4 linked regions of the Homo sapiens genome follow. The protein of the gene in region 1 purifies or fractionates together with the protein of each later gene. This does not show direct contact. Each region holds a gene or a part of one and is shown in the gene's direction. Other genes may lie near its edges.

Region 1 (3,500 bases):
CAATGAGATATCACCTAATGCCCATTAGGGTGGCTACTCTAAAAACAAAATAAGGCAAAAACAGAAAATAACATGTTGGTGAGGATGCGGAAAAATTGGAACCCTCATGCACTGTTGGTGGGACTGTAAAATGGTGCAACTTCTATAGAAAATAGTATAAAGTGTCATCAAAACAATTAAAAAAAAGAACTACTGAGATATGGAGCCAGCCGGACTTCGTGGGTCGAGTGGGGACTTGGAGAACTTTTCTGTCTAGCTAGAGGATTGCAAATGCACCAATCAGCACTCTGTCTAGCTAAAGGATTGTAAATGCACCAATCAGCACTCTGTAAAAATGAACCAATCAGCACTCTGTAAAATGGACCAATCAGCGCTCTGTAAAATGGACCAATAGGCAGGAAGTGGGCGGGGCCAAATAAGGGAATAAAAGCTGGCCACTGGAGCCAGCAGCAGCAACCCGGTAGGGCTGCTGTCTGTGATGTGCAGGGTTTGGTGTTTTGCTGTTCACAATAAATCTTGCTGCTGCTCACTCTTTGGGTCCACACTAGCTTTAAGAGCTGTGACTCTCACTGCGAAGGTCTGCAGCTTCATTCCTGAAGTCAGTGAGACCACAAACCCACTGGGAGGAACAAACAACTCCAGATGCACCATATCTGAACATCTGAAGGAACAAACTCCGGACACACCATCTTTAAGAATTGTAACACTCTCCAAAAAAAAAAAAAAAGAACTGTAACACTCAGGTTGGGCATGGTGGCTCACACTTACACTATCATATGATCTAACAGTCCTGCTTCTGGGTATGCCTTCAAAAGAATTCAGAGTCTGAATGAGATATTTGAACACCCATGGTCACAGTAGCACTATTCACCAAAGTCAAGAGATAGAATCAACCCAAAATGTCCATTAGTAGATGAGTAGATAAACAAAATATGGTATACACATACAATAGAATACCATTCAGGCTCAAAAAGGAAGGAAATCCTATCATATGCTATGACATGAATGAACTTTCAGGACATTATCTATGTGAAATAAGCCAGTCACAAAAAGACAAATACTATATGATTTAAACAAAGCATCTAAAGCAGTCAAATGCACAGAAACAGAAAGTAGAATGGTGGTTAGCAGAGGGCAGGGTGGAAGAGTTGAAGGAGAAAGGTTTTTGTTTAATGAGTATAGAGTTTCAGATTTGCAAAATGAAAAAGTTCTAATGATTTGTTTTATAACAACGTGGATATACTTAACACTACTGAACTGTACACTTAAAAATGCTTAAGATGGTAAATTTTGTTGTTTTTACTGCAATTTTTAAAAAGTATCTAACTAAAAAATTACATATGAGAGCGAGAGCTCTTGCACCATCTTGAGGAACAAATTGGCAACTATCCTGGTTAGGATTATTAGTTGCCTGTAACAGAAAACCAATATAAATAAATCTAGTCTGAAAGGGAAGTGTAGGAAGTGTACTAGAATGTTGTGGAACCAAAGACAGGAAGTTCAGTTGACTTCAGGATCAACTGGAACCAGGAACTTAAATCCCATTGAGATTCTTTTTCTCTCATTTCTACTTAATTCTCTCTTTACTCTCTTGTTTTAGTCCATATGGCAAGACGTGATTGCCAAGCATTCCTATATTTAAAAATCTCTTACTCAAGAGAGTGGTGAGACTGAACCTCAATTCATCAGTCTCATTCTACATTCCCAAGAAGGACTTTGACTCCACTTGGGTCAGCTGCCCATACCTAGGCCAATGAGGCAGTATCTGATGAAAGGCCTTCCCAGAAGAGAAGGAGGGACTGAAGTATTGGTCATTTAAAACAATGGGTGCTGACAACAGTATCTCAGTCCAGTTCCCAGTAAAAAGCTCCAAGCTGTGTAAATAATGTCTTCTAGTAGCAAGGGCCACAACTGAACAAGACATAGACATTGAGCACACCTTTTATTCAATTAACAGATCTGTCTTCTTTACATGTTTGTTGGATACATCAAAACAAGTGTTCGAAGTGTCAGGCTAGGATGAAATACAACTTTTGGTAGCTCAAAATTAAGAAAATAGCAGAATTTCTTATTGTTGTAGACAAAGTAGGTGCTCCATGCATGTTTTTAAACAAGTAGGGCCATGGGATTTACATATTGTGTTCTCTGCCTATACTGCTAATTTAGGTCATTCATTTAACAAATATCTATTGTGTGCCAAGTATGTTCAGAGTACTTTTTTAAGCCCCCTGAGATACTGAAATGAATAGCATAAGTATCAAAAGAGAAGTTAATCACAGTGTAGATTTAGTACCTATGGGAAAGAGTTGTTAATTATGACTGAAGTGGATCCATAGATAAGGCAGAGTTCCGGCTGGGTTTTGAAGAAGAAAAAAAATGGTTTGGATAAAATGGGAAGACCTGAAGTCAGGAGCTTACAGTAATGGTCTGGGGGAGAAATTATGAGAGTATTAACTGGAGCAGGGGCAATGGGAAAGAAAAGGGGGAAGAATCAAAAGTTGCATAAACAAAATAATGTACAGTCCTTGGTGATGCAAATGTGAAAGTCAAGAGAAATCACAAGTCAAAGTGGGTTTGATATTTCTACCCAGGATACTTAGGAGGTTGGTGATGCTACCAGAAAAAAAAAAAAAACCCACCCCAAAACATAGGAGCAATATGTGTGGGGAGTAGATAAGGGTTTTAGAGATGTCGAGTTTGAAATGCCCATAGTGTACCCAGGTAGAGATGCCCAGTGCTTAGCACAATAGCCAGCATGTGATAGGTTTTGGGGAGAACACTACACCCTTACTCCATATATTTCCTTTTATGAGAAGGGATCCCCACCAGTGTCATCTTTTTAGCCTCTCTCTTCCTCCCTCTTTCACTCTTCCTGAGAGAACAAGGAATTAATTTATCTGATTGATGAGTATATTAGGAGCAGCTGGACATAAGTAGCTCAGCTCCTCCTTTTTCTTTTTGTTTTTGCTAACTCTCAGGAAGCCCGTGTACATTCTGCTGTGCTCCTGCAGGCCGTCAGTTGTTCAGGGGTAGAATCTGCTCCTGCAGGAGACTTGCACCAGTCTGGTTCTGTCTGACAGTGGGGAGTCTCGGCTGTAGCCCACTTGCCTAACTACAAAGCCTCATTCTCTATTAACATATTTTCAGCACTAAAGGTGATATTTTGATCTTCCAGTTGCCTTATTTTTTTGTCCTTCTCTTTAATTGGTTCAGAGCTAAGCTGGGGAAGAGGCTGTTATTTATTGGACTTCTTTGAACCCCAATAGTAGGTACTCAGAAATATTTACTGAATAATTATGTTTTTAAATGACATATCTAGCAGCAACTGGAAATCTAGATGTGGAACTCAAGACAGAGTTCAAACTAAGGAGGTAGACTTGGAAATGACTAGCATGAAAGTGATATTTATTAGGCTTGAGTGATGTTGGCTTTATTGTCGTTTTTACAGCCAGTACTTATGGAGTGCTTATTATAGGCCAGACACTGTTCTAAGTGCTTTG
Region 2 (3,000 bases), on another chromosome or scaffold:
GATTAGACTTAATGTAAGAACCAAGTACTTGCTGTACATTTCAGACCAGGCAGATAACATAAAGAGAGTGGGATTTTAAAACATTAATCTGATCAGAGCCAGGCACGGTAGCTCACACCTACAATCTCAGCAACTCAGGAGACTGAGGCAGGCGTTCAAGACCAGCCTGGGCAACATAGTGAGACCCTGCCTCTAAAAAATTTTTTTAAATTAGCCAGGCATGGTAGTTGGAGGCTGAGACAACAGGGTCATTTGAACCCAGGAGTTCAAGGCTTCAGTGAGCTATGATTGCACCACTGCATTCCAGCCTGGGTGACAGAGTGAGACCCTGTGTCTAAAATAATACACTTGAAAATAAAAATATGGTCAGAGCAATTGGAATTGTACAACAGTAGTCAATTGCATTAAGATAAGTGTAAAGTTCAAACTGTAGTAGTAAGTGCAGTATTAGTGAGGAAGGGGTTTCTTTCCAAGATTTCAAACAAATACATAGAATTTTGTGGGAATTCAGACGTAAGGGATGAACGACTGAAGCGTCAGAGTCTTAAGAGTTTGAGCATGGTTGAATAGAGTGACCTGTGAAAGACCAAGGCTGTGGATGTCAGTTTTCATGGCAATGTTTTGAGGAGTGTAGATAAAAGTATGAGAGGGGATGAGCTGGAAGCAGCCAGTAGGCTTAGATGCCTTAAATAGTATACATTTAATGTGCTAAAGGGCGTTGATGAAGGAACAGGGAGCATGCTATTTAGAGAAGTGAGCATGGATATCACCTTTTAAACCATTAGTTAGCAGTGGCTCAGGTATTTTCTCGATTTAGAGACTATAGCATACCATGTCACACTAGGAAAGCGTATATGAAAATCCAGACTTATAAAAATTAAAGAGTAGTTGCATTTAAAAGGATTCTTCATTTTCAGCAGGATTAGTCATAAAACTCATTTTAAAGAGTTGAACTTCTTAATATAAAAGAAGATGATTTACCAAAATTTGGTTAGAATGCAGTCCTTTAGAATTGCACTTTTTGGGGACATCTGCATTCAAATAATACCTGTCTTCTAGGGTAAAAGATGCCATGGGAAAAATTGCCAAAAAAAATGTTAGCAGTAAGAACCTTTTCAACAGGGAAAAGTTAGTTTTTAAATAACCACTTGTACATACTACCCTGTGACAGTAATATTCTTCACTAAGTTTGTTTTCTATACTATTTCATTTTTTCTGACAGTTCCTTTCTCCCCATCCCTACTCCTTATAGGTATATTTGGCCCGAAAGGAAGGATCATCTTTTGCTTATATTTCCTGGAAGTTTGAGTGTGGGTCAGTTGGCCTAAAAGTAGATAGCATTTCTATTAGAACAAGTAGTCAAACTTTTCAGACTGGAACAGTAGAATGGAAATTGCGATCTGATACAGCACAAGTAGAACTGACAGGCGGTAAGCATTTGCCTGGAGAATTAATCACGAAATATATATTTACCACTCTGAAGACTAATTGTACTTATTTGAGATGTAGCTCTTTTTCGTACCTAAGAGTTATTAATACTATTTCAGTAAAAAAAAAAAAATTTAATAAACCCTGTGTGATCCCATTGTAACAGAAAGGCTGATGTTTTCTGTTGTGAAATACAAATGCAAGGAAAAAATCATTTCTTTGTTTCAAAGGATGCATTTCTTCCATAAAGAATAATTTGTATTTATTTTTAAGGGTTTATTTTAACTTATACATCAGCCTATATAAAATACATTTCAAAATGATCTGTGCTCTTTAAATTACCAAAAGCAAAATGTTAATTTTTTTTTTCCCTCTAACAGATAACAGTCTTCACTCCTATGCTGATTTTTCTGGTGCCACTGAAGTTATTTTGGAAGCAGAATTAAGCAGAGGAGATGGTGATGTCGCTTGGCAACACACCCAGCTGTTTAGACAAAGCTTAAATGACCATGAAGAAAATTGTTTGGAGATAATTATAAAATTCAGTGACCTTTGAGAACCTGAACATTATAGAAAAGCTGGCAATAATCAAGGACTTACTGAAGTAGTCTGTTGGTTCAGTGCATGCTTAGTTGGCAGTTACCACCCTGTGCTAGCATATTTCTTTTGCTAGCTATCCATCATGTAACCCTCATGAAAATTATCTTTATACGTGGACTATAATAAAATATTGAATTAAAACCTTTCTTCCATATGTGACTATAATTTGGAGTAAAGTCTTGTTGACTCAATATGGGATTTTAATCTAAAACTGTAAGTATGGTTTTAAAAGTTAAATAATGATATTCATGATTAAATGCTATTCATGATTATGATAAAATCTTGGGCTTATGATAGTAATTTGACATTTTCTGATCAGCCATTCATTTCTTCAGAAGTGGTTAAATTAGAGTCTCCTAATATTTTTAATTAATGTGAAAGTACAGTAGCTCATAAATTATATAATGCATGAAAATTTATATGATTATAAATATTCAGGCATTTAAGAAATAAAATGAAGTATTTTGCCTTACATCTTTTTAGTGGTTATTTTGGCTAAATAAAAATCTTTTTTCTAAACATTGAAAAATACTTGAATAGATATGAGTTATGAAAACATTTAACATTGACAACATAAACTAGGATACATTTTAAATTCCATAATACGTGGACATTTTGAAAATGCCTTACCTTTGAGTTATATTTTTATCTACCTCATTGAATAAAATATTCTTGATTTTGAAACTATGTAACTATATTATACAGTATCTATATGTTGTATCAAGAGGTTTTGTGTATATTCTGTATAACCTCTCAAATTTAGTGAACATTTATTAAGCATTTATGTACAAAGCATTGTGATAGCACTGTGGAGGAAGCAGTGGTGAAAAAGACATAGCCCCAAGCCTCCAGATTCCTTTGTGATATTCTGCAAAGTGAGTTCTCAACTCTTTATACAAGAAAAAGACACACTCAAGAGTCTCACCCTGTGCCACTCAATAGAACGTGACATGTATTATAAAATATATAATA
Region 3 (3,500 bases), on another chromosome or scaffold:
ATTGCCCCTCCCTTTGAACCTAAATGGGCTTATGATTGGTCCAACTGATAGAGTACAGTGGAAATAATGCTAGGTGACTTCCAAGGATAGATCATAAAAAGAATACAATTTTTTTCTCTCTTGCTATTCTTTTTCTTCTTGACATTTTCCCTTAGAATCCAGTCACCATATTGTAGGAAACCCAGACCACATAGAGAGGCCAAGAGTAGGTATTTCAGCCAACATCTCTTGCTAAAGTCTCAGCCGACATCCAGCATCAACTGGCAGGCATGTGAGTGAGCAAGCTGTCAGATGACTCCAGGCCCGGTCATCAGGTCTTCCTTCCCCCTCCTGATGCCAGGGAATCACAGATGCACTATCCCTGCTGAGCTCTGCCCCAGGTTGCAGTTTCATGGACAAAATAAAAGTTGTTACTGTTTTAAGCCCGTAAGATTTGGGGTGTGGGGGGGTAATTTCTTAGGCAATCAGAGTAACTGGGACATTTGGGTAATTAGAAATGAGTGAAATGCCTGTGTAGAGGGCTAAACTTCAGGTACATATGGATTATTAAATAGACTTTTGTGATTTGGCCTAACCTAACCTAATTTCTGGAGGAAAATATATTTCTGTTACCAACCAAATTACAAATGAGCTTTTGGAAATTTGGAACAATGTCCTACAGGTTAATGCTGTTGCTGGTTCTAGGAAAAGATTTGGGCTACACTGAGGCCAGACTGCATGCCTTAGCAAGATCTCGCTCATTGGCCCCCACTGACTGGGACCCTCCCTGCAGGAGAGTGCAGTGTGGATGGCAGTACTCGTATCATCTGTCCTAGACCATCATAGGACATGCTCAGTCCTCCTTGTCCACTTTGTCTCCCTCTCCCATACCTACTCTGTCTAAATTGCTGCCTACTTTTCTATTGTTAGAAACTGCTGTATCTTTGACACTATTTTGGCCCATTTCCTATGCTTCTAGGGCAATGTTTTCTGCTCTACTGGTTTGTAGTAAAGCTAGGGTATTCTCCTTAGCCAGGTAAAATTTAGCTAATTCAACAAAATCTTATGCCTCTTAACAAAATTGCCAAAATGGCAGCTGTCCCATTGGTCTGTGGCTCCATGTGTTGGTCAAATCTAGCATTTGAAATCCTCAGAAATGTGGTCCTTGTGTCCTTACTCAAAGAGGCATCCCTTTCCCTTCTGCTGTAGAGAAATCAATGCCCCAACTCTCTTCTCACTTACTTAAACTTCACCCCATCCTAATAGTCTACTCCTCTTCCCTTAAGAAGACTCTCATTCATTTATTCATTCAGCATTTGTTAACTCTGTACAGTGAGCCCTAGAGTTAAGTGCCTATGAAAATATTCCTTTCATGTCCAAGGACTGCTAAGGTTTCTCCAGCTGTTCCTCATTTGCTTACCATAGACACAGGGCAGATGTGGTGCAATCACCCAGACTTTTCAATAACCGGGATATATCCCATCTCATCCAAGATATTTCAGCTAAGTAGGATACTGCATGAGTAATATAGGACCAGCCAGTCTTTGAAAAGGTAACAGTCTAGTTAGGAAGGCTGGATGGCATCTGCATTTGAGGGCCAGAGCTACGTCTTCCACACTGGCTACAACTTCCCACAGTGCCCAGCATCATGCAGGACATACAGTGCCTCCTCTTTACATCTCTGTTAGGTGATTAGTGAACAGATTAACCCCAGAGGATATATGGCATTGAGATGACTTTGGAGAGGAAGTGAGCTTTGAGTTGGGCCTAAAGGATAGAGAGCGTCTGGCATGAGGAGCAAAAGTGAAAGGATAATCCTTCATTGAGAAGCATGATGAGAACATTCTAGTGACAGAAATAGGACACCTCCCCACCTGGAGTCAAGAACATGGTTGGGAAAAGGAAAAAATATATAATCTATATGGTGGGTCCATGGAGGATCTAGGATTTATCCACTTAAGCTGGATTTGATCTGATAGACACTAGGAAGCTGGGGAAAGCTGGGAGCAGGGAAGTGATGTACATGTTAAGTGGGGTGAGAATATTTTAGTGACTCTGTTTCTTTACACAGCTCATTTAAATCCCTGAATATGTGCTAAGTATTTTTGTCCATTTTTCTCATAGAAAAGTTTTAACTTCTTAAATTTTAAGAAATGTGAATTATCTTTTGCCCTCCGTAGGTGTGAGTAGCCATTTTAACTTTAGCTGGGTTATATCCGTAGGCAAAGCTGTGTAACTTCATAGTTTTAAACATATAACCTATTACTCATCAAAGTCATACTCATATAAGTTCCAAACCAAATGAACAAGTCAAGCCTTTAAAACATTTTCTATAAAACTATACTATAATGAGTATACAATGAAAATTTATATAAATATATATTATATGTATATTTATATATATATAAAACATACAATATATATATACTGAAACCCCTGAGACACTGCACATTATTCTGAAAAATCTTTGAATCATGTCACCAATGAAAAATTAGGTTGTGTTCAGTGAAATTTTAGTTGTAAGTTATGAGTGCATTGCATTACATTACACCTGAAATCTTTGAATACTGATCATCAATATAAGTGTCTGGCAACTATCAGAATGTTCTTAACCAGAGCATGCCATCTTTAAGAAAAATATTATAAATTATACATGCAAAAAAGTGTATATAACATATATGTACAATACAAAGAATAATAGAAAACAAATCCCTGGGTAGCCAACAAAAACACCATCTGTTAATCATTCTAGTGAAGAGTAATGCGTTGATATTGATGATAATTTCACTCTAGTAGCACACAGATTAGTACTGTCCCTAAGGTCCAACACCAGAAGAAATTGAATCGGTGATATGTTTTTTAACTATTTGATCACATAAAGATTTTAAACCAGTTGAGTCATTTATTTCAGTCTCTGATGGTGAATGAAAGGTATGTTTTCCACTTACAAAACATCACTTGCTATTGCTGCTGGCAATTGTGAAGGTTTGTAAATTGGTTTTTGTGTCGAGAGGCCTTTGCCCCAAGGCCATTGCCCATGTTGTGCTCCTTGTCACCTCCCAGCTATTCAGGAGGGAATGGTGAGGGAACCCTTGGTGAGCCCTGAGCTCTTGGTACAAGATCTGTATACTTAAGTTATTTAAAATGAATATTAATAGAAGACTAACATAAGACTATCTGAGTATATTACTAGGACTAGAAAGTCTCCCAGGTTGAATGGGACAACGTGGTACCAACCTTGGTACAAGCCCAACTGCCAGGGGTAGTTAAAGCAAACCATTCTCTCTCTCAGGGTATATATATATATTTTGGTATATTCAGAATATATTTCACAAAATAGAAGCTATTTAACCATTAAAGATGCAATCTTTGGTCCAAATTCCACTTTGCAAAAGAAATTGTCATTAGATCTGTTTGTGCCCACCTTGAAAAATGTTGATCAACTTCCAATTTTTAAAGGTCGATCTGTTACTATTTAGAAATAGAACTCTCTTTCTCCTCAGACTGTCAAAACAGCCTAC
Region 4 (2,612 bases), on another chromosome or scaffold:
AGTCGACTCAGTTTCCCCTATTTTACAGATGAGGAAGCCAAAGGTCTAGAGAGGAAAGAGACCTGCTCCCAAGAGCCCAGAATTTGTTAAAACCAAACACTGGAGCTGGGGCCTGGCTCCTTCAGCCTAATGTCCAGTGTTCCACACTGTAGCACCTGTGAAATTTATATATTGATAAATCTTGAATTTCCTTAAGTAATTAAGTTGAAGTGAGTTAGTATGTGTTCATTTTCAAATTGGAAAAAGTCAAAATTTATCTTTCAGTATTATAATGAAGGGTTGCATTAAAAAATGGACTTTATAACAATATATTAATACCTACATATACTTAAGTCTGTTTTACTAAAAATTGTCATCATGTATTTTGCAAACTTGATGAATCTATTCCCAGGGTGGCTCATAAGAGTACATGTTACGTTCAAAGAGATTTTTAAAAACCAAGAAAAGGTGTTGGTTGCTGATCTCTGCCATAATTTTTTCTAATTAAAATTTCTATTGAGATAATTGTAGATTTACATGCAATTATAAGATGATTTTTAAAAATCATATTTATGTTTCAGGGATGTGATTAAATAATCCTTTATAATGTGTTAGAAAATCAAATTACCCAAAAATTGTCCATGTTTTTTTGGAATGAGGGTTGGCAAACTAGTGCCCACAGGTCAAATCCAGCCTGCCACCTATTTTTATAATAAAGTTCTATTGGAACACAGCCATGCCCATTAATTTACAAATTGTCTCTGGATGCTTTTGTGCATTGACGGCAGAGCTGAGTAGTTGTATCAGAGACTTGAAAACTCGAATATGGCTCAAAAGCTTAAAATATGTACAGAAATATTTTGCCAGCACTGATTTTAAAAACTGTACAGTGATCAAACCTGGCCGTTTTATCACAAAACAATTTTTATATTTTCAGTACGTGATGGTTCAAGACATGCTCTCTCCATCCCCCATGGAACGACCTGAAGCTATAAACATCATTGAAAATGCTGTATTTGAGGACTTGGACTTTCCAGGAAAAACAGTGCTCAGACAGAGGTCTCGCTCCTTGAGTTCATCGGGAACAAAACATTCAAGACAGTCCAACAACTCCCATAGCCCTTTGCCAAGCAATTAGCCTTAAGTTGTGCTAGCAACCCTAATAGGTGATGCAGATAATAGCCTACTTCTTAGAATATGCCTGTCCAAAATTGCAGACTTGAAAAGTTTGTTCTTCGCTCAATTTTTTTGTGGACTACTTTTTTTATATCAAATTTAAGCTGGATTTGGGGGCATAACCTAATTTGAGCCAACTCCTGAGTTTTGCTATACTTAAGGAAAGGGCTATCTTTGTTCTTTGTTAGTCTCTTGAAACTGGCTGCTGGCCAAGCTTTATAGCCCTCACCATTTGCCTAAGGAGGTAGCAGCAATCCCTAATATATATATATAGTGAGAACTAAAATGGATATATTTTTATAATGCAGAAGAAGGAAAGTCCCCCTGTGTGGTAACTGTATTGTTCTAGAAATATGCTTTCTAGAGATATGATGATTTTGAAACTGATTTCTAGAAAAAGCTGACTCCATTTTTGTCCCTGGCGGGTAAATTAGGAATCTGCACTATTTTGGAGGACAAGTAGCACAAACTGTATAACGGTTTATGTCCGTAGTTTTATAGTCCTATTTGTAGCATTCAATAGCTTTATTCCTTAGATGGTTCTAGGGTGGGTTTACAGCTTTTTGTACTTTTACCTCCAATAAAGGGAAAATGAAGCTTTTTATGTAAATTGGTTGAAAGGTCTAGTTTTGGGAGGAAAAAAGCCGTAGTAAGAAATGGATCATATATATTACAACTAACTTCTTCAACTATGGACTTTTTAAGCCTAATGAAATCTTAAGTGTCTTATATGTAATCCTGTAGGTTGGTACTTCCCCCAAACTGATTATAGGTAACAGTTTAATCATCTCACTTGCTAACATGTTTTTATTTTTCACTGTAAATATGTTTATGTTTTATTTATAAAAATTCTGAAATCAATCCATTTGGGTTGGTGGTGTACAGAACACACTTAAGTGTGTTAACTTGTGACTTCTTTCAAGTCTAAATGATTTAATAAAACTTTTTTTAAATTAAGTATGTTGACTCTTATTTTGAGGAGTTAGTCCCAAAATGGTAGATTTTCTAATTTATAAAATGGGATCATAGATCTAGGAAGAGTCATAAACCTATCCTCAAAAAAACTTCTTCCTAACCCATTTCAGACAGGTATCTTTTTCATCATTTCCCAAAGACTTGGCAGGCCCTTTCAAAATTCACAAGATCCATAATTGACAGACATTTGCCCAGTACCTACCCTGTGCCAAGGACTGAGAATATAGAGGACTTTCCCCTAAAGGGAGAGCTCTCAGAGAAAAGGGCTGTGGTGATGCTAGTTGTATTGATACCGAGGTGTATCTGACATGTGCCACATCGAGGCATGTGGCAGGCTGGGCTGATGGGGCATGAACCAGCTAGACACAATCTAGAAAGGTCAAAATGCATAGCATCTCCATATTACAAACAAATAATGTCTGCCACGCAAGGTTATGAGCAACTTGTACGCTGGAAAAACACTTCCCAGATCTTTGTGGCTG

Evidence for each region. The genes of interacting proteins can lie anywhere in the genome.
Region 2: the proteins of VTCN1 (region 1) and NGLY1 purify together in Homo sapiens (affinity purification with mass spectrometry, with the first as the bait; one large-scale study listed by BioGRID). This does not show direct contact.
Region 3: the proteins of VTCN1 (region 1) and NCALD purify together in Homo sapiens (affinity purification with mass spectrometry; 2 studies listed by BioGRID and IntAct, with this or other methods). This does not show direct contact.
Region 4: the proteins of VTCN1 (region 1) and EIF2AK3 purify together in Homo sapiens (affinity purification with western blotting, with the first as the bait; one study listed by BioGRID). This does not show direct contact.

The regions. Positions count from the first base shown.
Region 1 is NC_000001.11:117,148,428-117,151,927, reverse strand, and holds part of VTCN1 (V-set domain-containing T-cell activation inhibitor 1 isoform 1 precursor), read left to right. Parts: intron 1-3,500. UniProt on the Homo sapiens protein: Negatively regulates T-cell-mediated immune response by inhibiting T-cell activation, proliferation, cytokine production and development of cytotoxicity.
Region 2 is NC_000003.12:25,718,444-25,721,443, reverse strand, and holds the end of NGLY1 (peptide-N(4)-(N-acetyl-beta-glucosaminyl)asparagine amidase), read left to right. Parts: intron 1-1,252; coding exon 1,253-1,430; intron 1,431-1,808; coding exon 1,809-1,984; 3' UTR 1,985-2,500; downstream 2,501-3,000. UniProt on the Homo sapiens protein: Specifically deglycosylates the denatured form of N-linked glycoproteins in the cytoplasm and assists their proteasome-mediated degradation. Cleaves the beta-aspartyl-glucosamine (GlcNAc) of the glycan and the amide side chain of Asn, converting Asn to Asp.
Region 3 is NC_000008.11:101,780,970-101,784,469, reverse strand, and holds part of NCALD (neurocalcin-delta), read left to right. Parts: intron 1-3,500. UniProt on the Homo sapiens protein: May be involved in the calcium-dependent regulation of rhodopsin phosphorylation. Binds three calcium ions.
Region 4 is NC_000002.12:88,556,241-88,558,852, reverse strand, and holds the end of EIF2AK3 (eukaryotic translation initiation factor 2-alpha kinase 3 isoform 1 precursor), read left to right. Parts: intron 1-916; coding exon 917-1,117; 3' UTR 1,118-2,112; downstream 2,113-2,612. UniProt on the Homo sapiens protein: Metabolic-stress sensing protein kinase that phosphorylates the alpha subunit of eukaryotic translation initiation factor 2 (EIF2S1/eIF-2-alpha) in response to various stress, such as unfolded protein response (UPR).